Linked DNA regions of Homo sapiens. The protein of the gene in region 7 interacts with the protein of the main gene of each other region in a biochemical or structural test. Each region holds a gene or a part of one and is shown on either strand. Other genes may lie near its edges. The genes, in order: PLCG1, GRB2, FBXO7, IKBKG, NEDD4, NOTCH3 and RET.

Region 1 (3,500 bases), on a different chromosome or scaffold from region 7:
AGGGCTGCCTTTCTAACCTTCCCATCTCCATCCCTGGATCTTTTTACCAGTTAGAAGCTGCAGCAAGGATGGCAGCTTCATTCAGCACCTAACTGCCTGTACCCCACCCACCCAGGAGTCAGGCAACTCCTCAATCCCTTTTTCATTCCTCAGGGAAAGCATACTGAGTCTTCTTTGACTTAAAAACAAAAAACCTCACCAAAATAGGCTCTGCTATTTCTTCTCTTCCCACCCTGGCCCGCCCCCCATTCCTGACAGTGCCTTACATCACAAACTAAGTCCTCTTAACACAGCAGGCAGCCCACCTGCCACTCTCCTCTCCAAGGTTTCCCTACAGGGGTGAGGAGCAGGAGGAGTAAATAACTTAGTTACAATACCATTGAGACGAAAAATAATACTGCTATTTTTAACATGATCCCCTGTATCTTTCAGGCTGGGTCATGTTCCCAGCCATGGGCAATGTGCCCTTGTGCTGTGTCCTCCTCCTCAGGCAGGGCAGAACCCTTCTCCATGCAGGCCCTACATTCCTCTGCCCTGGCTCCAGGGCCAAACTGCAGGGGCATCTAGCTTCTCACCCTGCCCAGCTGTGGTTTTAAAGCTACAGGACAATGTAAACTTTGTTTCCCTGGCCCAGCAAGGCTCCTCCTCCTCCTCCACTCTTAGGAATGTCAGTAGCTCCTTGGAGTCTCCTGTGCCACTGGCTGAGGCAGCCTCTCTCTCCAAGGGGCTTCGGCCATGGTCCTGGCCCCACAAGATGGAAGGATCCATCTCCAGAAGTCAGGGCCAGATGTGTGTGCTTAATGCGAAACACAGTACAGTTTTTGCCTTCATCCAGAGCTGGGGCATGGAGGCCCAAAACAGTAATAACATCTCATTAATGGCTTGGTTTCTGTCTAGCATTCACTGCTGGAATCCAGGCTTCAGGCTGCGAGACCCGGAAGGCCGCCACAGGGGGCTGCTTCCAAAGAACCCAGTTCGCGGCATTCTACAAGGCGCACAGCACCTGCTGCTCTCCAACGAGGCTGGGGTACAACTAGAGGCGGTTGTCTCCATTGACCCGAGTCCTTCTTGGGGCCCTGGACAGAAGGGAAGAGTGTCCTTACTGGCAGGCAGGGCCTTGCAGCCCAATGCCAGACAATATTACAACTTTTCTACCCAGGAGAAAGAAACACTGAAGAAGGAGGACCTAGCCACTGCCTTCCTGGCTCTAGCACCCCTCCATCTTCCTCACCTTCGTTCTCGACTGTCAAAATGGTCTGCGAGATGCTCCTGGGAGATGCGGAAGTCCTCAAACGGCTGCTGGTAGCGGGATTCAAAGGAGCCTTCCCGGGCTCGGCCATGAAACAGCTGGCCTGAGGCATCTGAGCCCCGCTCCCGCAGGGACGTACCACTGAAGGGACTGAGGTCACCATTCTCCTGCTTCAACGAAGCCAGGTGCACAAGAGGGTCAATGACTCCTCTGCACTTCTAGAGGCTGCTGCCTGGCTCTCCTCCCACCTACCCCAGGCCAGCCCACCCCTGCTGCAGATACCTTGGCAGGGAAAATGTCAATCTTGATCAGCAGGGAGGCCAACTCCAGGTCCTCACTGTAGTTGTTCTTCAAAGGCACTGCTCTGTATCCTAGGAGGAGGAAAAGCCTGGCCCTCAGCCCACGAGGGACAGAGCAAGGGGCCCAGCCCCACCCTGCCAGCAAGATTGCAGGGGCACTGCCTCCAGGAATGGTCCTCACCTGTCTTCAGGCCTTTTACTGGGAAAGTAGCCTGAGCCAGGAAATTCTGGTCACTAAACATGTCTTCCTCATACACCACGAAGCGCAGAAAGGCAAATTCAGGGTTACTGATCTGGAAGTGGAAGGGCTTGGCTGGCCATACAGGGTTGAGTCCATTGTCCACTGTGAAGGCAACGACAAAAGGCTTCAGGTCACCGTGGGAGAGGATGGGATGACTGGTGGGGAGAGGCTTGCAGTGCCCCAGCAGGATGAGGAGGATGACTGGGAAGACAGACTGACCCACAAACTCTGTCTTCTGCTTGGTGCTGTCATACTCAGCTCCAGCCACCTCAATCTCCACAAAAGGACACACAATGCCTCGGCCATTCTTTGGCAGATGTCGGGCCCCCAGCACCTGTAGGCAGACAAAGAAGGGCCTGGGATTGTCCTTCCTGCTCCCTCCAATTCCCCACTGCGGAGGCTCAGTCAGCATCTGTGGAGTGGAGGCAGCGCGCCCTCTGCTGGGCCCCCGGGACACTGCCCATGGAGTCCCTCACGACATCAGGGACCCTAAGCTGTCCAGAGCAGCTGCTGCCTGTAGTTTATCTGAAGTCTGAGCTTTAGCCAAAATTTCCATGTGAGTTTTGCAATCTACTTCATGTTAAATCCATTACTATTTTAACACAGAAATCTTTTAAATGACCTCCCCTTAGGGAAAAAAAAGATCTCATCAGAACAAAACAAGTCATCAGAACAAGTCACACCATGGCTCTGCACGTCCTAGATGCATACAGTGACTGCATGCTATCTTCACCCCTTCAAAGACTCAGCTCAGGCCCCACCCACCCTGACCACCTTGATGCCTGAAAATACCTACTTTTGGAGAACTCAACATAAACAGACTCCAACGGCAAGCAGCCCCTTTCCTACCCTGAAGCCCAGATGAGCAGCACCCACCTCAATAGAGATGGCACATGGCTCCAGCCCGCGGAGGCTGCTCTTGTCAAAGGGGTCGAAGGCCTCATCCCGCATGGTGCTTGGCTGCAGCACGTAGCCACAGTGCCTGCCCGTCATGAAGAGGGCCTGGTTCATCTGCATAGGCTTGTCTGGAAGAGGCAGATTATGGTGTATTCCAGTCCAGCTGCCCCACAGTGCCCCTCCTCACCCTCCTCACAGGGGACTTCCTCACCAGGGGTCTGGAAGTTGAGGGCCACAAGCTGACTGCCACAGATCCACATGGGCAAAGGATCGTAGTTGGAGGAATCCAGTCGCTGGCCCTTGGGGTAGATGCGGGAGAGCTGCAGTCGATTGTACTGAAGGAACTTCTTGCCTTTGGCCTTGTTCACGTATTTCTCAGCCTTGGTTTCCGGGAAGGATGACATGTCCCGGTAGCAAGCACGTTCTGTGCCAATCTCTGGGCCAAACAGGGAAAACACTTACAGAGCCCGCCCACCCAGGAAGTGTTGGGGGGATACCTAAATACTCTTTTTGCACCCACCAGGCCCTCCAGGCACATGCACACCCCGCCTGGGCCCTGGCCCTTACTCTCTTCATCAAAGGGAACAGGCCGGCAGTAGACGACAAGTTCAGAGAGCTCCAGGGCAATCTTCTTCCTCCGTTCCATTATCTTCCCTTCAGTGAGCTGGTGACACACACAAGGCCCTGTAGCCCCAGGCTACAGCCCTGCCCAGGAGAAGGAAGCCCCTGCCAACCTTGGGCATGCCCACACTGCAGGTGCTCTGGGCCCCTCTCCCACCTTCCCCTGTACCTTCCAGACACCACACCCAACAGT
Region 2 (3,500 bases), on a different chromosome or scaffold from region 7:
AATAATAAAAACCCCACAGGCTTATAAACAATATTTATTATTTTATTTCAGAGACAGAGTCTACGTTGCTCAGGCTGGAGTAGCTGGGACTACAGGTGCGTGCACCCATACCAGCTATGAAGAGTTTTTGAAAATGTCTTAACTCCTGAAATGGTGAGGTGTGTCTACTTTTACTGTATACACTTGTTCTTGGAAGACAGAGAGTCAGACTGACAAAGAGCTGCTTGTAACCTATTTGTGCATCAAAACAGAACAAAGTAATCATTAGAAAGGGACACTTTTGATTTGTGACCAATAACTTTGCAGAAAAAGATAACTCTATTTACCTGCCAGGAGTTCATAGAGCTACACTCTCTTCTTGTCACCTTTACCAAGACAGAGGCAAATCCCTCTAAAAAGTGTCCCCTCCCCCAACAAACACAACTCCAGGGCAACTCCTAGATTTGACATCAACTTAGAACTATGGCTGTCTACAGAACAAAAATTATTACTTGGTGTTTAGTATGTTTTTCTCCCCCAGAAAGAAGGAAAATATGGAATTAATGCTTTTAAAAATGTAATTTTTTTTTTTGAGAGAGTCTTGCTCTGTTGCTCTGTCACCCAGGCTGCAGTGGAGTGGCATGATCTCGGCTCACTGCAACCTCCACTTCCCGGGTTCAAGTGATTCAAGTGCCTCGGCCTCCCAAGTAGCTGGGATTACAGGCATGCGCCACTATACCCAGCTGATTTTTGTACTTTTAGCAGACACGGGATTTCACCATGTTGGCTAGGCTGGTCTCATATTCCTGGCCTCAAGCAATCCACCTACCTTGGCCTCTCAAAGTGCTGGGATTATAGGCGTGAGCCATCATGCTGGCCAAAAATGTAACATTTGAGTACATGAATGGTTACGATTTTGGTTATCTGGAAAATTCTAGTATCCAGAATATCACGTTATCAGATAGCCCAGGTATTGCTGCACATACCTCTAAACCTCTTCACTCTAGAATTTCAGAAAAAGCTTGGTTCTGCCGGAGGCAAAACACAGGATGAACAATGCAGCTGCAACCCTGAGCCAGAGACCAGGCCTTTCAACCCAACTGCTCCACCTGCACTGGGAGCTTGCACACACAAGCCCTGAAACTGGAGTGATGTAATTAGATGCTTAAAAATTAAGTTTTATTCAAATGTTTAAGTATACAAAACAGCTACTGAAGTGTCGGGTTAAAAAAAAAAAAGAAAGAAAAAGAAAACAAAACAGCAAAGAACACAAATGAATGTTGAAGAGCTCGAGGTGGCAGAGACCAGAAGCATCTGAGGATGAGGCTGCACCTACAAAGATTGTTTCATTTGCTGTGGCTTTAGGTGAAAGCTCACATCCTTCACAAATAATTTTTATTTTATTACTGTTACTATTTTTTTTTTTTTTTTGAGATGGAGTCTCGCTCTGTCGCCCAGGCTGGAGTGCAGTGGCACAATCTCGGCTCACTGCAAGGTCCGCCTCCTAGGTTCAGGCCATTCTCCTGCCTCAGCCTCCCGAGTAGCTGGGACTACAGGCGTCTGCAACCACGCCCAGCTAATTTTTTATATTTTTAGTAGAGACGGGTTTCACTGTGTTAGCCAGGACGGTCTTGATCTGACCTCGTGATCCGCCTGCCTCGGCCTCCAAAAGTGCTGGGATTATAGGCGTGAGCCACTGCGCCCGGCCTACTATTACTACTACTACTACTACTACTACTACTACTATTATTATTATTATTATTATTATTATTATTATTATTATTATTTATTGAGACAGAGTCTCACTCTGTTGCCCAGGCTGGAGTGCAGTGGCACAATCTCGGCTCACTGCAACCTCCGCCTCCCAGGTTCAAGTGATTCTCTGCCTCAGCCTCTCGAGTAGCTGGGATTACAGGCACCCGCCACCACGCCTGGCTAATTTTTGTATTTTTAGCAGAGATGGGGTTTCACCATATTGGTCAGGCTGGTCTTGAACCTCTGACCTCAGGTGATTTGCCTGCCTTGGCCTCCTGAGTAGCTAGGATTACAGGCGCCTGTCACCATGCTCAGCTAATTTTTGTATTTTTCATAGAGACGGGGTTTCACCATGTTGGCCAGGCTGGTCTCGAACTCCTGGCCTCAGGTGATCTGCCCACCTTGGCCTCCCAAAGTGCTGGGATTACAGGCATGAGCCACCGTGCCCGGCCACAAATAATTTTTAAAGGCCTAGTCAGACTCCTGAGCATGAGCAAGCTGCTCCCATCACTGTGTCTTCACTTGCTTATTCACTCCCTCTGCACAAATCCACGGGTGAGCTCACAAAAAGTTTCCTTCAGCTTTAAAATCTCCAAGGAATGTTTTTAGCTATTACCCCACAGCTGCATTTTCTATTCCAACCCCCATATTCCCTCGAGTTATGACTTTGTAGCCACACGACACTTTGGTTTAACGGAAGCAGATTGATCAAGAGATGAGATTATAAGAGGAGGAAGAGACAAGTTTCAGTGAAGACAGTTCTTTTTGTTTTTTGGTTTTTTTTTGCAAAGAGACTGAAAATAATGTTAAGAGCCCAAATCAGGAAGAAATTTAAGAGATGAGGAATGAGGTGAGCTTTACACAGAAGAATTAAAAATATACAAGTCCTTTCTGTGCTGATAGCACTCACGCAAATGGTCAACTTTCCTAAAATTCACTGGACTTTCTCTAAGAAGTGTGGCAAGCATCAACCCCACAAAGTGACACAGTACAAGAAGGGAAAGGATTCTCTGTATGCCCAGGGAAAGCGGCGTTATGACAGGAAGCAGAGTGGCTATGGTGGGCAGACTAAGTCGATTTTCCGGAAAAAGGCTGAAACCACAAAGAAGACTGTGCTAAGGCTTGAGTGCGTTGAGCCCAACTGCAGATCTAAGAGAATGCTGGCTATTAAAAGATGCAAGCATTTTGAACTGGGAGGAGATAAGAAGAGAAAGGGCCAAGTGATCCAGTTCTAAGTGTCATCTTTTGTTTTATTATGAAGACAATAAAATCCTGAGTTTATGTTTTTTTTTTTTTTTTGAGACAGAGTCTTGCTCTGTTGCCCAGGCTGGAGTGCAGTGGCACGATCTCGGCTCACTGCAAGCTCCGCCTCCTGGGTTCACGCCATTCTCCTGCCTCAGCCTCCTGAGTAGCTGGGACTACAGGCGCCCGCCACCACGCCCGGCTATTTTTTTGTATTTTTAGTAGAGAGGGGGTTTCACTATGTTGGCCAGGATGGTCTCGATCACTTGACCCCCTGATCCACCCACCTCGGCCTCCCAAGAGTTTATGTTTACTTCAAAATATATATATATATGTACAAGTCAATGGAAGGGGACATGAAGGAACTCTAGAGGTGCTGTTTATCTCACATTTCCTGACCTGGGTGTGTTCTGTTTGTGAAAGTTCACTGACCTATAATGATATATACATTTTCCTTTTTCTTTCTTTCTTTTTTTTTTTTTTTGAGACAGCTTCAGTTTTCACTCTTGTTACCCAGGCTGGAG
Region 3 (3,500 bases), on a different chromosome or scaffold from region 7:
GAATTATAAACCTTATTGAATTATGATTTCATCATCTATAAAATAAGTACCACATAATTTACTTCGAAGTCATTAGCAGTAAATAAGAATGCATGTGAAATATCCAACTAAGTGCCTGCAAAGAGCCTCCAATAAATGGTTTAAAAAAAAAAACTTAGATCCAATTACAGACCATGTATTATTTATATATGTCTATATAGACATATATATCTAAATATATGTCTATATAGACATATATATCTAAATATATGTCTATATAGACATATATATATGTATCTACACAGAGAGAAAGAGCATCTATTATGTACCTGACCTCATGCTAGACCACAAGAATACAAAAGTAAGATATATTCCCTACCTTCAAGGTATTCCCAACCTTAGGTGGAAAGAAATCATATCAACAATTATAGTCCATGGAAAAGAGACTACAATAAAAATATGTACAAAATGGCATGGAGATACAAAGATAAAGTAAATAGCACTTAAGGAATATTAAGCTTAGTCTTAGAAGAGGAACATTTCGCCAGGAGCAGAAAAGAGGGCAGTCAGATGTCATACTCACCAAGAATATTAAGTATACTTACTATTCTTTACAGTCATTTAAATTGTGACAGTATTTCATCTCTTACCTTGTCGGGTAAAAGCCAGAAGAGGATACACCAGCTGGTCTTTAAAGAGGCGAGAGAGTTTCTGAAGATCTTTGTATATGTTGGCTACATTTTCCCCTAGAATATTTTTTAAAGTAAAATCAAAACCCAAAATCAAGTGAAAAAACTGTCCTCTATTTCTGCCAAACCCAATCAACATGGTGAATAAATATTCACAAATAATTCACAAAGATAAGCATGAACCAAATTCCCTCATGGAAGAAGTACAGTGCAAGACTTGATGAAACTGAATCTTAGATATAAAAGCTAAAAATTCCATGATATCAAATTAGTAGAGCTGTGCCCAACCTCTCTAGCTCATAGGCTGCAGTTGTAGAAAAGACTTGTGAGAGATTCATACATACGAAGATTTCCTGATAGCTATCAATCTGTTCTGGGCACTAAGGATACAGTGGAGAACTGCTCCTGTTAACGCTTAGAACCTGGTAAATTAATAGCATTTATCGCATGATGACTATGTATCAGCACCTGTGTCAAGCGTTTTTCAAGCTTTCACATCAGAAGTTCTTTCCTAATTACTATCTCCATTTTAAAAACAGGTCAAGGTACAGAAAGCCTGTCCAAGGCCCCATGGTTAGTGGCAGAACAGTGCACAAACCCAAGTCCGTGTGGCTCAAAAGCACTCATTTTTAGTCACCACACTGCTACTCAACATGTGGGCGACAGATCACCAGAACTGACAATACCTGGAACTGTTTAGAACTACTGAATCTCAGGCCCCCACAGACCTACCAAATCAGAACCTATATTTTAATAAGATCCCCAGGTGACTCATAGTAAAGTACGGACGCACTAGCAAACTGCAGCCGAGGTTCCCACTTGTTTTGCTATTTACCAAGTGTATAGCCTTGGACAAATAACCTGCCCCTCTGATCCTCACCTTTTTGCTCAACTGTTTAAAGGAGACACCACCACTACACCAGATAAGCGTTGTTATAATTGAAAGCTCCACGAGCAGTGCCTAGGGTATCAGTAGGCAATTTATGCTTGCTCCTTCCCCATTTCATATTTATGTATTTCACTATCTATAACAAATAAAACACTCAGTATAACAGGATCGATAAGAAGAAGGAAAGAGATATGCAGCTAATGTCTAAATCTTTGTTGTGTGACTTGCAATCTTGAGTTGAAATTTGCTGTCAAGATATCATTCTTTAAAATCAATTTGGCTCAAGGGCTTTTTTCAAATGTGAAAATTGATTTTCTTTAAATGAATGTTTTCCTTCAGCAACCTGGTATGTAACTATTTAATTAGGAACTTATAAATAAAAGGATAAATAACAGTGCCTAGTTATAGTTACTAGGTGCTATGAACCACAGTAAAAATTCATTAAAATGACTTGCCAAATGAGCAGCATATTCCTACTCAACATAAGACTTTATTAAAAATACTTCATTATAACAGTCCATAAACTTGTAATTTAACAGTATTTAATGTTCCTCCTCCCTTCCATTTCATTTTTCTTTATTTAAGAGAAACCAGATAAAGAATAACAATCTGAGCTACATTCCTGTAAAAGTTGTTTTAAAAGGCTGGGAGTCAGCCAAATCTATTCCTATCCTGTATTTCACCATTTATTGGCTCTGTGACCCTTAAGTAAGTGAGCCTCCTCTAGATCTGTTTCCTGATCTATAAAATGGGCATAAAACCTCTACTGCTGTAAAGTGTAGAGTGTTTCTACTCCCCATAACAAGGTCCTCCCTATACGGTGATAAATATGGAGTGTCGTAGCCAAGGAATTTCAAGTTTTTCTGATCCTCATGATAAAAGCCATCTATACCAATTCATCAGTCCAGTTTATGCATTTCCAACAGGGGCAAAAACTGGTCCTTGACGGGTTAAAAAGAAAAACTATTATATTGGTTTGTGATCCTTCAAAGGGTCACAGTACATAAATAAAACATACTATATTTGTGGTATGAAATTTCATGAAGGAGAGAGATTGAGGGGAAAATCTCCAACGGCTCCTTTGGGAAGTGAGAATAAAAAGATTGAGAAACTCTGGCCTAGTCTGACATTAAATGTTCAACTCGGTCGGGCGCAGTGGCTCATGCCTGTAATCCCAGCACTTTGGGAGGCCGAGGCGGGCAGATCACAAGGTCAGGAGTTCGAGACCAGCCTGGCCAATATGGTGATACCCTGTCTCTACTAAAAATAAAAAAAAATTGGCTGGGCGTGGTGGTGTGCGCCTGTAGTCCATCTACTCAGGAGGCTGAGGCAGAAGAATTGCTTGAACCCAGGAGGTGGAAGTTGAAGTGAGCCGAGATAGCGCCACGGCACTCCAGCCTGGCGAAAGAGCAAGACTCCGTCTCAAAAAAAAAATTCAATTCAGCTAATTCCCAATTTCTGACTCTACATCCAATCAGAGACCGTTATAAATATGTATTCTGCTATCTCCTTTTCCTGTCAGTTTTAGTTAGTATAAGTCAATCTCTCAGGGCTGATCTCCCCTAGGAATGAACAAGAATAAGCCTTTAGGCCTTCAAAGCAACAATGTCAATCTAGCCAGCCTTTCCTAAAGGACTGCTATAAATGCCATCTTCCCATTGTACCACAACATTCCCACTAGGCTCTTAAAACCCTCCTAAGTTTACTAAGAAGATTAAATGGAATAACATATGTACAGGCACAAGTACAGAATGAAACAGGCACTTAAAAAATGTCAGTTCCCCTCTCCACCTTATCTCTTCTGCTCCAACCACCTATAACTGCCTCTCACAGTTTGGTTTAACTGAAAAATGATAAAAGGGAAAACCTGTCTTCTTTGTATCTATTAATAATTTTATAGAGTTTAAGCAAAACCTTACCTAGAATGCAAACCTTTGGTAAAG
Region 4 (3,500 bases), on a different chromosome or scaffold from region 7:
ACACGGCTGGCCTCGCGGCAAGGACGCTGGCTGCCCCGTCATCTTTCACCTGAGCCTGCACTCGCCCCCTCCCGACTCCCTCCTTCTCCCTTCGCAAGGCCAGGCCGCCTCTGCTGGGGCGGGAACGGAGCTCAGCTCTCTCCCCCGCAAGCAGGGGTTTCTGAAGAAGATCTCTTTTGCCAGCTTGAACAAAGGCCCGCTTTTGTGTACCTTTGTGTATCTCCGGTGTTCTTGTCAAAAGAGGAGGACAGGCACAGAGGCCCGCGGGGACAAGGCCACAGGATGACGGAGATGGAGGCTGGAGAGGTGCAGCCGGCGGCCCCCGGCGCCGTGGAGAGGCCTGGAAGGCAGCTCCCTCGCGGCCCTGGCGGGGAGCCCACCCTGCCGACACCACCGCTAGCTCAGCCTCCAGGCCTCCAGAAGCGGGAGGCCACGCGTTTCTGTGGCTTCGGCCCCGCAGTCTGTGGTGCTTGGTCACGGCAGCTGTAGAAAACTCATCCACTTCCCACACAGGAAATCAACGCCTTAAGCCAGGCGCTCTAAGCCCTGAGTGGAGCGGCGTGCACAGCCCACCATCCACGCCTTTCCCCAGGGGAGTGGAGCCTGGCTGTGGCAAGTGCCAGGTACCCGCCAGCAAGTCTCCTCTCCAGCACTTCTCTCCACCTTGCCCCTCAAAGGGAGCACGGCCCCTTCCTGACTACCATCGCCAGGATCCTGCGATCAGCCAAGCCCACACACAAAGACCCTGAAACCAGGCGGTCTGTGCTAATGACACGATTTATGGGGGGAGCCTTGGGCCACACAGCTGGACCTCTGGTGGCTACAGCCGAGTGACCAGGGTTGGCCACGCAGGCGCTCGGTGCCCACGCGGCCCACCCCCCGTGAAAACCCCGGCCGCCACGGCTGGGGTGAGCTTCCCGGTTGTGACTCCGTGCTCGCTGTCCCACACTGTTGCCGAAAGAAACAGGTGCCGTCTGCACAACTCCCCTGGGCGAGGAGCCGCTGAAGCTCACGCCTGGTCTCTCCTGGAGCCCGCCCTGTGCGCCCTGAGCCTTCGCTCACCGTAACCTGTGTCCTTTCCTTGTAATAAACCGGAACTGGGAGTGTGACGGCTTTTCTGAGTTCCGAGCCCTCCCGGCACAGCACTGAGCCCCAGGGTGCTTTGGGGGACCCCGACCACGGGTTCCCTTGTGGAACACTGGCGTCACCGCGGGTTTTCAGAACCTGGCCCTGCCCCGACTACCTGCTGGCATCTCTTCAGGTGCTCCACCTCCCGCAGAGCCTGCTCCTTCTGCCTCTTCAGATCGAGCTTCTCCAGGCCGAGTCTCTCCACCAGTTTCCTGGCCTCCTGGAACTTGCACATGAGGAACTCCTTCTCCTCCCTCTGGCTGGCTTGGAAATGCAGAAGCTCCTCGCAGCGCTCCCGCAGAATCTGGTTGCTCTGCCGGATGGCATCTGGTGGCAGAGGGGACAGTGGAGGGGAGCTGGGCAGCCCGGCCTGCCGGGCCCTGCCTGGGCCCACATGGGCCTGAGGCTCAGGAAGTCAGAGGCCAGAAGTGGGGCCACCCATCCTGGTGCCCCCACCCGCCATAATACCACGCAGCTTCTCTCAGGGGTGGATGGCGTCTCAACACTCCCTTTTGTTTCTTTAAACACTTCCAAAATCCTTTACACTAATGCCCCTCACTTTCTGCAAGAAAATAACACCAAACACATCAGCTTCACTTAAAAGTACGTGTTGGCCAGGCACTGTGGCTCATGCCTGTAATCCCAGCACTTTGGGAGGCCAAGGTGGGTGGATCACCTGAGGTCAGGAGCTCCAGACCAGCTTGGCCAACATGGTGAAACCCCGTCTCTAATAAAAATACAAAAATTAGCCCGGTGTGGTGGCACACGCCTGTAATCCCAGCTACTTGGGAGGCTAAGGCAGGAGAAGCACTTGAACCTGGGAGGTGGAGGTTGCAGTGAGCCGAGATCACACCATTGCACTCCAGCCTGGGGGACAGAGCAAAACTCTGTCTCAAAAAAAAGAAAAAAAGTATGTGTTAAATGCCACTTTTTTGAATTTTTATTTTTGTAGAGACAAGGTCTTGCTATGTTGCCCAGGCTGGTCTCACATCGTTGGCCTCAAGCAATCCTCCCACCTCGGCCTCCGAAAGTGCTGGGATTATAGGCATGGGCCACTGTGCCTGGCCTTATGCCACTTTGTTTGTAAGTGACTCGAATTCATTTGTATTCTGGTCAGTCTGAGGTGTGCCTGCCCTCAGATGCTCGGTATTGGTCCTCCCTGGCCTACATCTCTGCTGTCTTCTAGATCGGGGGTCCTAACACGCCTGCAGACTCCTAGGGTCAGCCTCCCAGGCAAACTTCACTGCAGCATTGCTGGCTGCAGCCTGAGAGGCCCAAAAGGCTTGGACCAGGCAAGTTAGTGGCGTCTCTGAGCCTCAAAGTCCTCATCTGCATAGTGAACAGAGACAAGAACATTCATCTTACAAGACGAGGAGGGTTAAACGAGGAAGCAGAAAACAAACGGGAAAAACCGCTGGTCCTCCCCTCACCAGAGCATGTGTGCCAGTGCCAGGCAGTCAGCAGAGGCCACAGGAAGGAGAGCCCCACACCCAGGAGACACCCCAAGTAGTGAAGAAGCCATCTGAGGTGACAAAACTGATAAGTGATGTGCCAAGGTTCTAGCAACTCTATAGCAACTACAGAGCTGGATAAAATGGGGCAGGCAGTAGCTACCCCGTGATCAAAACCCTCAACCAACTAACTATTGCCTGCTGACGAGCGCAACATCCACCCCCCATCAGAATCCCGCTTGCTCTGCCCAAAGCTCAGCTCATCTGCAACTTGTCTTTTTTTTTGAGACAGACTCTCGCTCTGTCGCCCAGGCTGGAGTGCAGTGGCGCGATCTCAGCTCACTGCAACCTCCACCTCCTGGGTTCAAGCAATTCTCCCTGCCTCAGCCTCCCAAGTAGCTGGGATTATAGGTGCCCGCCACCACGTCTGTAGCTAATTTTTGTAGTAGAGATGGGGTTTCACCATGTTGGCCAAGCTGGTCTCAAACTCCTGACCTCAGGTGATCCCCCCGCCTGGGCCTCCCAAAGTGCTCGGATTACAGGCATGAGCCACTGCACCTGGCTGGCAACTTGTCTTTTAAAAAATGTTCTGAACTGAGGTAAAATTCACATGACATCAAATTCACTATTTTAACTAATTCAGCAGTTTTCGGTGTATCCATCAGGTTGTGCAACCATCCGCACTATCTAATTCCAGAACAGTTCCGGGACCCCATAAGCAGTCGCTCCCCCAGCACCCTCCTCATCTGCATCTGCCTCTGCAGATTGGCCACTTCTGGACATGTCTCACACTAGTGGAGTCACACACTAGAGACATGCAACTTCTTCGTGAATCTCTCCCTCAACATTCTAAGTACAGCCTCCTCCATGGACATAAGCATGTACATCTTGGGGGACAGACATCTTCTGGGCCCTTAGGGG
Region 5 (3,500 bases), on a different chromosome or scaffold from region 7:
GTATTTAGTGGGATGTTTAATGTTATCTATAACTTACTCTGAAATGCATGAAGAAACTAAGACAGACTGATGGATAGACAGATAGGTATGTGATAAAGTAAATCTAGAAAAAAAGCAATTGTGAGTAGTTGATATACAACTGTCCAATGTAAAATTCTTCCAACTTTATTATATGTTAGAAAATTTTCATAATAAAATGTTGAGGAAAAAGTTCATTTGTATTTTGAAACATGATAATATATTAATTTCCATGTCATTAAAAGCAAATTCTTCAAAATGTTCAAGCTGCTTGTTAAATTATACTTCGTCTATACTATAAGTGAAAAAGACATACCACAGATTCCATATCATGAAGGGTTATTGGTTTGTGAAGCATCATCTTGTAAAATGGGCGGATGAAAAAACCTTGCAAAAAACCAAATACATTTAGGATGATTACCAAGTGAAAGAAAACAGGTAATTATATTGTAAAAAGTTTATACTTAATACTAACCATCCAACAGTTTGCCATGATAAACTGCCATTCCAGCTACCCGACCAATAAACTTGAAGTAAGAGAGGTGATCTTCGTTACACAATCCAGAGTTTGGATTTATCTGTAGGGTATAATTGTCCCTGTAAAGACAACCCCATTTAAATACTTCATTTGAAAAACTTTAATATGACAAATAATTACAAATAATCTTCCTCCTTTAAGAGTTGTTTACCACTGTTAGAACCACATTCCTCCACTGGATTTAATGGTTTTAAAAATAGTAATTTCTGTCAAAAAGTGGAAATAACCCAAATGTCCTTTGGCAGATGAATGTATAAACAAAGTTTTGTTTGTTCGTTTGTTTTTGAGATGGAGTCTTGCTCTCGCCCAGGCTGGAGTGCAATGACACGGTCACAGCTCACTGCAACCTCCGCCTCCCAGGTTCAAGTGATTCTCCTGTCTCAGCCTCCCAAGTAGCTGGAATTACAGGCGCCCGCCACCATGCCTGGTTAATTTTTGTATTTTTAGTAGAGACAGGGTTTCACTATGTTGGTCAGGCTGGTCTTGAACTCCTGGCATTGTGATCCACCAGCCTTGGCCTCCCAAAGTGGTGGGATTACAGGCATGAGCCACCACGCCCAGCCTAAACAAAGCATTATATGCAAAAATAATGGAATATTATTCTGCCTTAAAAAGGAAGGACATTCTGATACATACTACAACATGGATGAACCCTGAAGACATCATGTTAAGTGAAATGAGCTGGTCACAAAAAGACAAATATTGAATGATTCCACTTATGTGAGGTACCCGAGGAGTCAAATTCATAGGGACAGAAAGCAGAATGGTGGCTGCCAGGGAATGGGGAGCGAGTGCTTACTGGGTATAGGGTTTCATTTTGGGAAGATGAAAAAGTTCTAGAGTTGGATAGTGGGATGGCAGCACAACAATGTGAATGTATGTAATGACTCTAAATTGTATATTTAAAATGGCTAAAATGGTAACTTTTTTTTTTAGAGGAGTCTTGCTCTGTTGCCCAGGCTGGAGTGCAGTGGCGTGATCTCGGCTCCGCCTTCCGGGTTCACGCCATTCTCCTGCCTCAGCCTCCTGAGTAGCTGGGACTACAGGCGCCCGCCACCACGCCTGGGTAAGTTTTTGTATTTTTAGTAGAGACGGGGTTTCACCGTGTTAGCTAGGATGGTCTCGATATCCTGACCTTGTGATCCGCCCGCCTCGGCCTCCCAAAGTGCTGGGATTACAGGCATGAGCCACTGCACCCGGCCGACTCTTACTTTTAAAACAGTGATTTTTCTTTTTCTGCCGATAATCATTGTAAAGGTACTTACGTAGCAGAATATTCAAACAACCCATAATAAGGGTTAAACATTTCCTTTGAGATCAGGAAGAACCATTCTCTGGCAACTCCTCCATAATCCAATCCCTTTTCACCATCAAACTCAATCCACAGTCGAGCCTTCAGGAAGTCTGCTCTCTTGACACCCATAATTCTCCGGTAAGAGTCTTCAAGAACAGTTGCTCGGCGAAGTTTCATTTCAAATTTGTTTGGAATGTCATTCTGAAAATCCAGAGGAGAGACGTACTGTTTAAATCAGTTCAACATAATAACAAACCCATCTCTCATAAAGTTATAACATTCCCTCTACACCCTGTGTCCAAGTCTCTTTTTCCTTACGTAATATACTCAGGGAAAACACAACTAGGTATATTGTCTTGGTTTCCTCTATGGTATGAGACAGTTTCTGCATTTTCTTTAATCACTTAGTAATATAGACTTCTTTACATCTGAAGAAGCTTTTGTTTTTGGAGACAGCTCTGTAGTCCAGGCTGGAGTGCAGTGGCGTGAACATGGCTTACTGCAGCCTCGACCTCATGGGCTCAAGTGATCCTCTTGCTTCCGATTCCTAAGTAACTGGACCACAGGCGCATGCCATCATGCCTGACTAATTTTTTAAGTTTTTGAGGTCTTGCCATCTTGCCCAGGCTGGTCTCAAACTCCTAAGCTCTAGCAATCCTCCCGCCTTGGCCTCCCAAAGTGCTGAGATTACAGGCATAAGCCATGGCACCCGGCCTAAAGAAGCAATTGATGGTGATGGTAATGCCCCCATGAAGGCATTTCGTTAACAGTCCTTTTCATATTAAGTTCCAATGAACACCGTTCTGTGACCTGTAGGATAGCCACTGCCTGCTAGCTGTTGTGCCTGTCTGTTCAGGCTTTTCCCTACCTCTACTTTCCTCCCTGGAGTCTATCTTGCTTCACTCATTAACAGATGGTGACATTTACAGACTGTGCCAGTGATATATTCTGGCTGTGTCCCTACCCAAATCTAATCTTGAATTGTAACTCCCACAATCTCCATGTGTCATGGGAAGAACCTGGTGGGAGGTGATTGAATTATGGGGGCGGATCTTTCCTGCACTGTTCTCATGATAGTGAATGGGTCTCACGACATCTAATGGTTTCTATGCACAAGCTCTCTCTTTGCCTGCTGCCATCCATGTAAGATGTGACTTGCTCCTCCTTGCCTTCTGCCATGATTGTGAGGCCTCCCTAGCCATGTAGAACTGTAGGTCCAATAAACCTCTTCCTTTTGTAAATTGCCTGGTCTCAGGTATGTCTTTATCAGCAGCATGAAAACGGACTAAAACAGCCAGGCATGGGTACCCTGGAATGGCAGGTTAACGTGTTTAACCTCATAACAACACTATGCGAAAGCTACTATTATTGTCTTCATTTTACACATAAAACTGAAGAAGACGACTTAAGAAAGTCTTAGCTCCTGAGTCTGTGCTCTTAATTAATGGAGCTACATTGCCTCACTAATCTTTTGTACGTTCTTTGCTTATGTGACAAATGTACACAACTATGCTTTAGGCAGAACTTATTGTAAATTTTACAAAAGATATATCTAAATATTTTATTCCTCAGTACTTCATGGGCAAATTTCCAGGGGAAACCAGTAAGAGAAAACATGCCATCAATATTCTGTCACCTCCAAAAAAGAAG
Region 6 (2,229 bases), on a different chromosome or scaffold from region 7:
GCAGGTAGAGGTTGCAGTGAACTGAGATTGTGCCAATGGACTCCAGCCTGGGTGACAGAACAAGACACTACCTCAAAAATAAATAAATGGATAAATAAAAACCACATGTGACTGACTACTGTATTGGATGTCACAACCCTAGGTTCAACTGAAGGAGGTCCACACAGCACCCCCTGTGTATAAACAGTCATGCACATGCACGCACACACACACACACACACAAACACACACACACAGACACAAAGTGCTTCCCCATTGCACAGAGTCATTTTGCAGATTTGCACACACATGGATCCAGACACAAGTACTTGGATATTCACGGCAGGCCTGCCTCCTCTACCCCTAGGCCACATTCTAGACAATTTCTGCCTCCCTGACATGGGGGCCCCAGGACAGGTGCCTGGTCCTGACCTCTCTCCCCTTCATCCTCCAGGGAAATCAGCCTTACACTGGGCTGCGGCTGTGAACAACGTGGAAGCCACTTTGGCCCTGCTCAAAAATGGAGCCAATAAGGACATGCAGGATAGCAAGGTGAGCCCCAGCCCTTGGTCCACTGGGTGTCAGCAGTGGCACAGTGCCATTGCAATCCAGCCTGGGCAACAGAGTGAGACTCTCTCAAAAAACAAAACAAAATAAAACCCCAAACATTGGATTAAAATATAATTTACTTTGGTGACTAAAGTTTTTGGGGGCCCCTTAAATTTTGTGCCTAATGGCTGGGTGTGGTGGTTCATGCCTATAATCCCAGCACTTTGGGAGGTCGAGATGGGTGGATTACTTGAGTTCAGGAGTTTGAGACCAGCCTGGCCAACGTAGTAAAACCCTGTCTCTATTAAAAATACAAAAATTAGCTGGGCGTAGTGGTGCACACCTGTAGTCCCAGCTGCTCGGGAGGCTGAGGCAGGAGAATCGCTTGAACCCGGAAGGCTGAGGTTGCAGTGAACTGAAATGGCGCCACTGCACTCCAGCCTGGGCGACACAGTGAGACTCTGTCAAAAAAAAAAAAAAAAAAAGACAAGAAAAAAAAAGTTATGCCTAAGGTGAGTACCTCGCTTAACTCACCCTAGTCCTGGCCTTGACCTCTGGCACTTAGTAGGTGATGGATGAATGTGGTTTAGAGGAAAGAACTTGTCCAGGCTCCCCCAGCACAGCCGGGATTTAACCCAGGTCTGTCAAGCTCCAGTGTACAAACTCATAGCTCTCGGGCTCCCCCAAGAGGCTGGAAGACTTTGCTACTGTTAGCTGGGGTTTCGCTGACCTCTGTGGGTTCTGGCCCCCCAGGAGGAGACCCCCCTATTCCTGGCCGCCCGCGAGGGCAGCTATGAGGCTGCCAAGCTGCTGTTGGACCACTTTGCCAACCGTGAGATCACCGACCACCTGGACAGGCTGCCGCGGGACGTAGCCCAGGAGAGACTGCACCAGGACATCGTGCGCTTGCTGGATCAACCCAGTGGGCCCCGCAGCCCCCCCGGTCCCCACGGCCTGGGGCCTCTGCTCTGTCCTCCAGGGGCCTTCCTCCCTGGCCTCAAAGCGGCACAGTCGGGGTCCAAGAAGAGCAGGAGGCCCCCCGGGAAGGCGGGGCTGGGGCCGCAGGGGCCCCGGGGGCGGGGCAAGAAGCTGACGCTGGCCTGCCCGGGCCCCCTGGCTGACAGCTCGGTCACGCTGTCGCCCGTGGACTCGCTGGACTCCCCGCGGCCTTTCGGTGGGCCCCCTGCTTCCCCTGGTGGCTTCCCCCTTGAGGGGCCCTATGCAGCTGCCACTGCCACTGCAGTGTCTCTGGCACAGCTTGGTGGCCCAGGCCGGGCGGGTCTAGGGCGCCAGCCCCCTGGAGGATGTGTACTCAGCCTGGGCCTGCTGAACCCTGTGGCTGTGCCCCTCGATTGGGCCCGGCTGCCCCCACCTGCCCCTCCAGGCCCCTCGTTCCTGCTGCCACTGGCGCCGGGACCCCAGCTGCTCAACCCAGGGACCCCCGTCTCCCCGCAGGAGCGGCCCCCGCCTTACCTGGCAGTCCCAGGACATGGCGAGGAGTACCCGGCGGCTGGGGCACACAGCAGCCCCCCAAAGGCCCGCTTCCTGCGGGTTCCCAGTGAGCACCCTTACCTGACCCCATCCCCCGAATCCCCTGAGCACTGGGCCAGCCCCTCACCTCCCTCCCTCTCAGACTGGTCCGAATCCACGCCTAGCCCAGCCACTGCCACTGGGGCCATGGCCACCACCACTGGGGCACTG
Region 7 (3,500 bases):
GGGGTAGTGGCTGCTCAGTACCGAACACGTGAGGATGATGTGGTGGGCCCGGGGGACAAATGTGTCTTGTGAGCCCTCTTCCCTGATACCACCATCCACATAGTAAAGATGGCATGGAATCTCTCCATTGTGCTAAATCTAGGAATCATCTTAATCATGATGAAAACCAAATGTCTTCCTAAGGAAAGGTTGCATGATTTAAAAAAAATCATTCTCAAGATCTCGAATGCTGAGCCCAGGCCCATCCTCGGGGCCCCTCTTCCCCTCCAGCCCTGGAGGGGCATTGACACTACCCCCAGGCCCCCCCCGCAGTCTCTCATTCTGAATAAGGACAGGTCATCAGGGCCAGCATTTTTCCTACTGCCTTTTTTGTGTGTGTGCTTCATGTTTAAATTTTTTTGCCTTGTTTGGCGGCAACTAGAAAAATCCAACAGTTCAGGTCCAATTTCATACACCAGGTAGTAAGTGTTGGACCCACACATGTGAACACAGAATGTTGGTGGTCACTGATGGACACAGACCAACACTGGGTGCTGCTGGGCACTGAAGAGAAAGGAATGCTTAACCACTAAGACTCAGAGCTCTTACCCGGTGTGGCATGTCTGCTAGGAGGGAAAATCACCGGCTATCAGAAGTAAAACCACCTTGGAAGTTAAAACAAACTACCAAAAACGAGTCTGCCACCTGGGAACTGAACACGGCTCGGCCAATGTGACGTTCACAAAGAAAGGGCCGGTAGACTTTCCATTCTCAGCATGTTTCTTCCCCTTGTGAGTCCATTACCTTTCACAAAGAAATGTTAACTATCAAACGTGTCCATTAATTTTGCCGCTGAGGGTGAAAGCATCCAGTTAGCATATACACTATCATTTGGATATCTTGGAAACCCAGTGTTAGTGCCATCAGCTCTCGTGAGTGGTACAGGACTCTCTCCAGGCCAGTTCGGGTCTGACATGCCTAAAAATGAAAACAGATCATTTGTTCTGCACTGAAGAACCAAAACTTCAAGTGCAGACAGTAAGGCCTTGGCAAAACTCCCTTTGATGTTCAAACCAAACTCGTGGTTTCTGTGCCAATTATATTAATGGTTTTGTGTTCCAGGTTTCCAAAAACACTGTTATAGTTAGGGGAAATATCATGTGCTCTCTTGGTAAATGTAACTTAACAGACACTACCAATTTTGACTTTTATGAACTTGAGACTCTCTAATCTGATGTATATTTGTCGAACTGCTTAACTCTTTTTCTAAGGCAGTGTAGGGCAACAGCACACTGCTGCACTCAATGGCTTACTGCAGCGGAAACGTTCTATAAAACATTCTCTAACGTAAAGGAGGCACTCGTCTGTTGTCTGAGCCTACAACGGAGAAGAGGACCTTCCAAATCGAGGGTGCACACGGGCCAGCCTCATAGCATCGTCAGCACAAATGGAGTGTGGCACTAGACACAAAGCCAGTGAGGAGTCAGTGAGTCAGGAGGCATGCAAAAGGAACCGTCTCAGCTTGAAAAAAATGCTTGAAACTCCAAGATTTCAAACAATCAATGATGAAGTTAGGAAACAGAAAAAATTTCTAGTATTTAATCAAAGACAAAAGAAGGAGTTTTGGCAAGAACCATATTTACTGTCCATTGTAAGACCACAGCACCACAGACCATGTTCTTTCAAAAAGCAACTGCTCCAGCTTTAGCACTGACTTCATAAGTGACAACCGTCCTGAAGGTGGGTAAGGGAAAGGATGTGAAAACAGCAGTGGGGGTGCGTCCTCCCAGGGCCAGCCAGCTCCTGCAACCTCGCTACCCCTGATGGAGGACATGTGGCTGGGACTGGGGCTGAGGCTTGGCCAGTGGCTGCTCGCCAGTGCCGGGTGGCCTCTGAGAGGCACCTGCCTGCCCAGGAGGGGTCTGGGGGAACCTGGCTGTGCTCCCAGTGCAGGCTGAGTGGTGCTGGTGGCTCCTTTCTCAACTGAATACCTCCCCAGATTTGTATATTTATCCACTTAGTTAAAGTAGAAGTACTATGACTTGATTCCCACCCCAGAAGCGCCTTATTCAACCTGTTCTTGGTCTCCCCTGAGAGTTCCGCCCTGATCTGTTTTTTCCTCTACCATCCTAAGTTGCTGGGCAATGTGGTAATTACACTTATTTTCACATCCTTTTAGAAAAACATAGTTGCAATAATGCCTAAATGTAAACTGGATGCAAAGTCAGACATTTACAAATAAAAAGGTTCAGAGCAGACTTTGGTTTTGTTCAGACCAGAAACATTTTTAAAAAGCATCACAGAGAGGAAGGATAGTGCAAAGGGGACAGCGGTGCTAGAATCTAGTAAATGCATGGGAAATTCTACCATAGAGTTTGTTTTCAATCCATGTGGAAGGGAGGGCTCGAGGGAGGGGGGCATTATTACAGTCCACCAGCGGTGTCTCCTCCTCTGAGAGGCCGTCGTCATAAATCAGGGAGTCAGATGGAGTGGACGCCGCAAGGTCCAAGTAGTCCTGGAAGACAGAGATGGCCGGTCACTCCAAGCCATGTGCCACAACTAGATACAACTCAGTATACAACAAGCCATCCTCAGGGCAGAGGCTCTGGCTGTGTCTCCACCTCGCACCAATCTCCTGACCTCTCCAAGAGACCAGGGCCAGGCTGCATAGAGCTCCCAGGACTCCTGGCTGGCCTGGTCCTGCTCTGAGGTCCCCATCACTCCCCTGGGTGTTGTCTATTCTGTCTCTTCCCCTGGAAAGTCACCTCCCTGGGGAAAGAAATGTGCTCCCTCAGCGTCTTATCTCCAGGGCCTGGAGGGCAGCCTTGGGGGACGCCTCATCTAGCTGCCCCTGGCCCAACCCGGAGATGGGCAGCACGGAACCAGCCCGCTGACAAACCCTTGGGCTCTGGGGGAGCCCACTGCAGCCACATGCCAGGACGCAGCCCCAGCCTGCAGGATGTTTTCCAGCTTTCCCCAAGGACCCCTGCCATCTAGAACGTCACGTCAGGGCTGAGTTCTGAAATCTGACAGCGCTGTCAGGGTGCACAGGACCCTGCTACAGGCACGGGCTCCCCAGCACGAGGGGCCACTGGCGTCTGCTCCTTTCAATGCCCAGCTTGAATGTGCACAGAGGGGCCCAGCGTTTTCCCGGCTGTTTCTCAGCACTGTTCTAGGAAGGCCAGCACCAGTGATCGCTTCTGTTTTGAACAACGCTGCATTCTCAGGACTTGAAGTTTTCATCCAAGCGAGACAGTGATGTGAAGTTTTCCTATGGGGTCCTAGGTCCTGCATCCCGCTATCCAAGTCGGAAGAAGTGACAACTCAGTAAATGTGCCAATGTTAAGACAAGGCCTGTGTGTAAACCCCGTGAGGGCAGGGCTGTGCTGGTCTTGTTTATCTGCATTCCCAGCCTCTGAGACATAGTATGGGTCCTAGCAGCTGCCTGATGAATATTGGTTGAAAATGTGTAGACCTCACAAACTGTACTTCCAGGCACACAGGCTGACTCTGGCCACCCC

The links.
Region 1: the proteins of RET (region 7) and PLCG1 form a complex in vitro, tested with the Homo sapiens proteins (one study listed by BioGRID).
Region 2: the proteins of RET (region 7) and GRB2 form a complex in vitro, tested with the Homo sapiens proteins (3 studies listed by BioGRID).
Region 3: of the proteins of RET (region 7) and FBXO7, one has a biochemical effect on the other in vitro, tested with the Homo sapiens proteins (one large-scale study listed by BioGRID).
Region 4: the proteins of RET (region 7) and IKBKG form a complex in vitro, tested with the Homo sapiens proteins (one study listed by BioGRID and IntAct).
Region 5: the proteins of RET (region 7) and NEDD4 form a complex in vitro, tested with the Homo sapiens proteins (one study listed by BioGRID).
Region 6: the proteins of RET (region 7) and NOTCH3 form a complex in vitro, tested with the Homo sapiens proteins (one study listed by BioGRID).

The regions. Positions count from the first base shown.
Region 1 is NC_000020.11:41,172,043-41,175,542, reverse strand, and holds part of PLCG1 (1-phosphatidylinositol 4,5-bisphosphate phosphodiesterase gamma-1), read right to left. Parts: intron 3,351-3,500; coding exon 3,254-3,350; intron 3,123-3,253; coding exon 2,898-3,122; intron 2,815-2,897; coding exon 2,666-2,814; intron 2,124-2,665; coding exon 2,009-2,123; coding exon of another isoform or gene 1,892-2,008; coding exon 1,730-1,891; intron 1,621-1,729; coding exon 1,532-1,620; intron 1,420-1,531; coding exon 1,232-1,419; intron 1,077-1,231; coding exon 1,034-1,076; 3' UTR 1-1,033. UniProt on the Homo sapiens protein: Mediates the production of the second messenger molecules diacylglycerol (DAG) and inositol 1,4,5-trisphosphate (IP3). Plays an important role in the regulation of intracellular signaling cascades.
Region 2 is NC_000017.11:75,336,179-75,339,678, forward strand, and holds part of GRB2 (growth factor receptor-bound protein 2), read right to left. Parts: intron 3,035-3,500; exon of another isoform or gene 2,622-3,034; intron 1-2,621. UniProt on the Homo sapiens protein: Non-enzymatic adapter protein that plays a pivotal role in precisely regulated signaling cascades from cell surface receptors to cellular responses, including signaling transduction and gene expression.
Region 3 is NC_000022.11:32,488,311-32,491,810, reverse strand, and holds part of FBXO7 (F-box only protein 7), read right to left. Parts: intron 726-3,500; coding exon 630-725; intron 1-629. UniProt on the Homo sapiens protein: Substrate recognition component of a SCF (SKP1-CUL1-F-box protein) E3 ubiquitin-protein ligase complex which mediates the ubiquitination and subsequent proteasomal degradation of target proteins and plays a role in several biological processes such as cell cycle, cell proliferation, or maintenance of chromosome stability.
Region 4 is NC_000023.11:154,554,120-154,557,619, reverse strand, and holds part of IKBKG (NF-kappa-B essential modulator), read right to left. Parts: intron 1,456-3,500; coding exon 1,244-1,455; intron 1-1,243. UniProt on the Homo sapiens protein: Regulatory subunit of the IKK core complex which phosphorylates inhibitors of NF-kappa-B thus leading to the dissociation of the inhibitor/NF-kappa-B complex and ultimately the degradation of the inhibitor.
Region 5 is NC_000015.10:55,840,113-55,843,612, forward strand, and holds part of NEDD4 (E3 ubiquitin-protein ligase NEDD4), read right to left. Parts: intron 2,052-3,500; coding exon 1,822-2,051; intron 616-1,821; coding exon 494-615; intron 406-493; coding exon 335-405; intron 1-334. UniProt on the Homo sapiens protein: E3 ubiquitin-protein ligase which accepts ubiquitin from an E2 ubiquitin-conjugating enzyme in the form of a thioester and then directly transfers the ubiquitin to targeted substrates. Specifically ubiquitinates 'Lys-63' in target proteins.
Region 6 is NC_000019.10:15,160,767-15,162,995, reverse strand, and holds part of NOTCH3 (neurogenic locus notch homolog protein 3 precursor), read left to right. Parts: intron 1-433; coding exon 434-531; intron 532-1,281; coding exon 1,282-2,229. UniProt on the Homo sapiens protein: Functions as a receptor for membrane-bound ligands Jagged1, Jagged2 and Delta1 to regulate cell-fate determination.
Region 7 is NC_000010.11:43,125,569-43,129,068, reverse strand, and holds part of RET (proto-oncogene tyrosine-protein kinase receptor Ret isoform a precursor), read right to left. Parts: intron 2,495-3,500; coding exon 2,347-2,494; coding exon of another isoform or gene 2,315-2,346; exon of another isoform or gene 958-2,314; coding exon 800-957; 3' UTR 1-799. UniProt on the Homo sapiens protein: Receptor tyrosine-protein kinase involved in numerous cellular mechanisms including cell proliferation, neuronal navigation, cell migration, and cell differentiation in response to glia cell line-derived growth family factors (GDNF, NRTN, ARTN, PSPN and GDF15).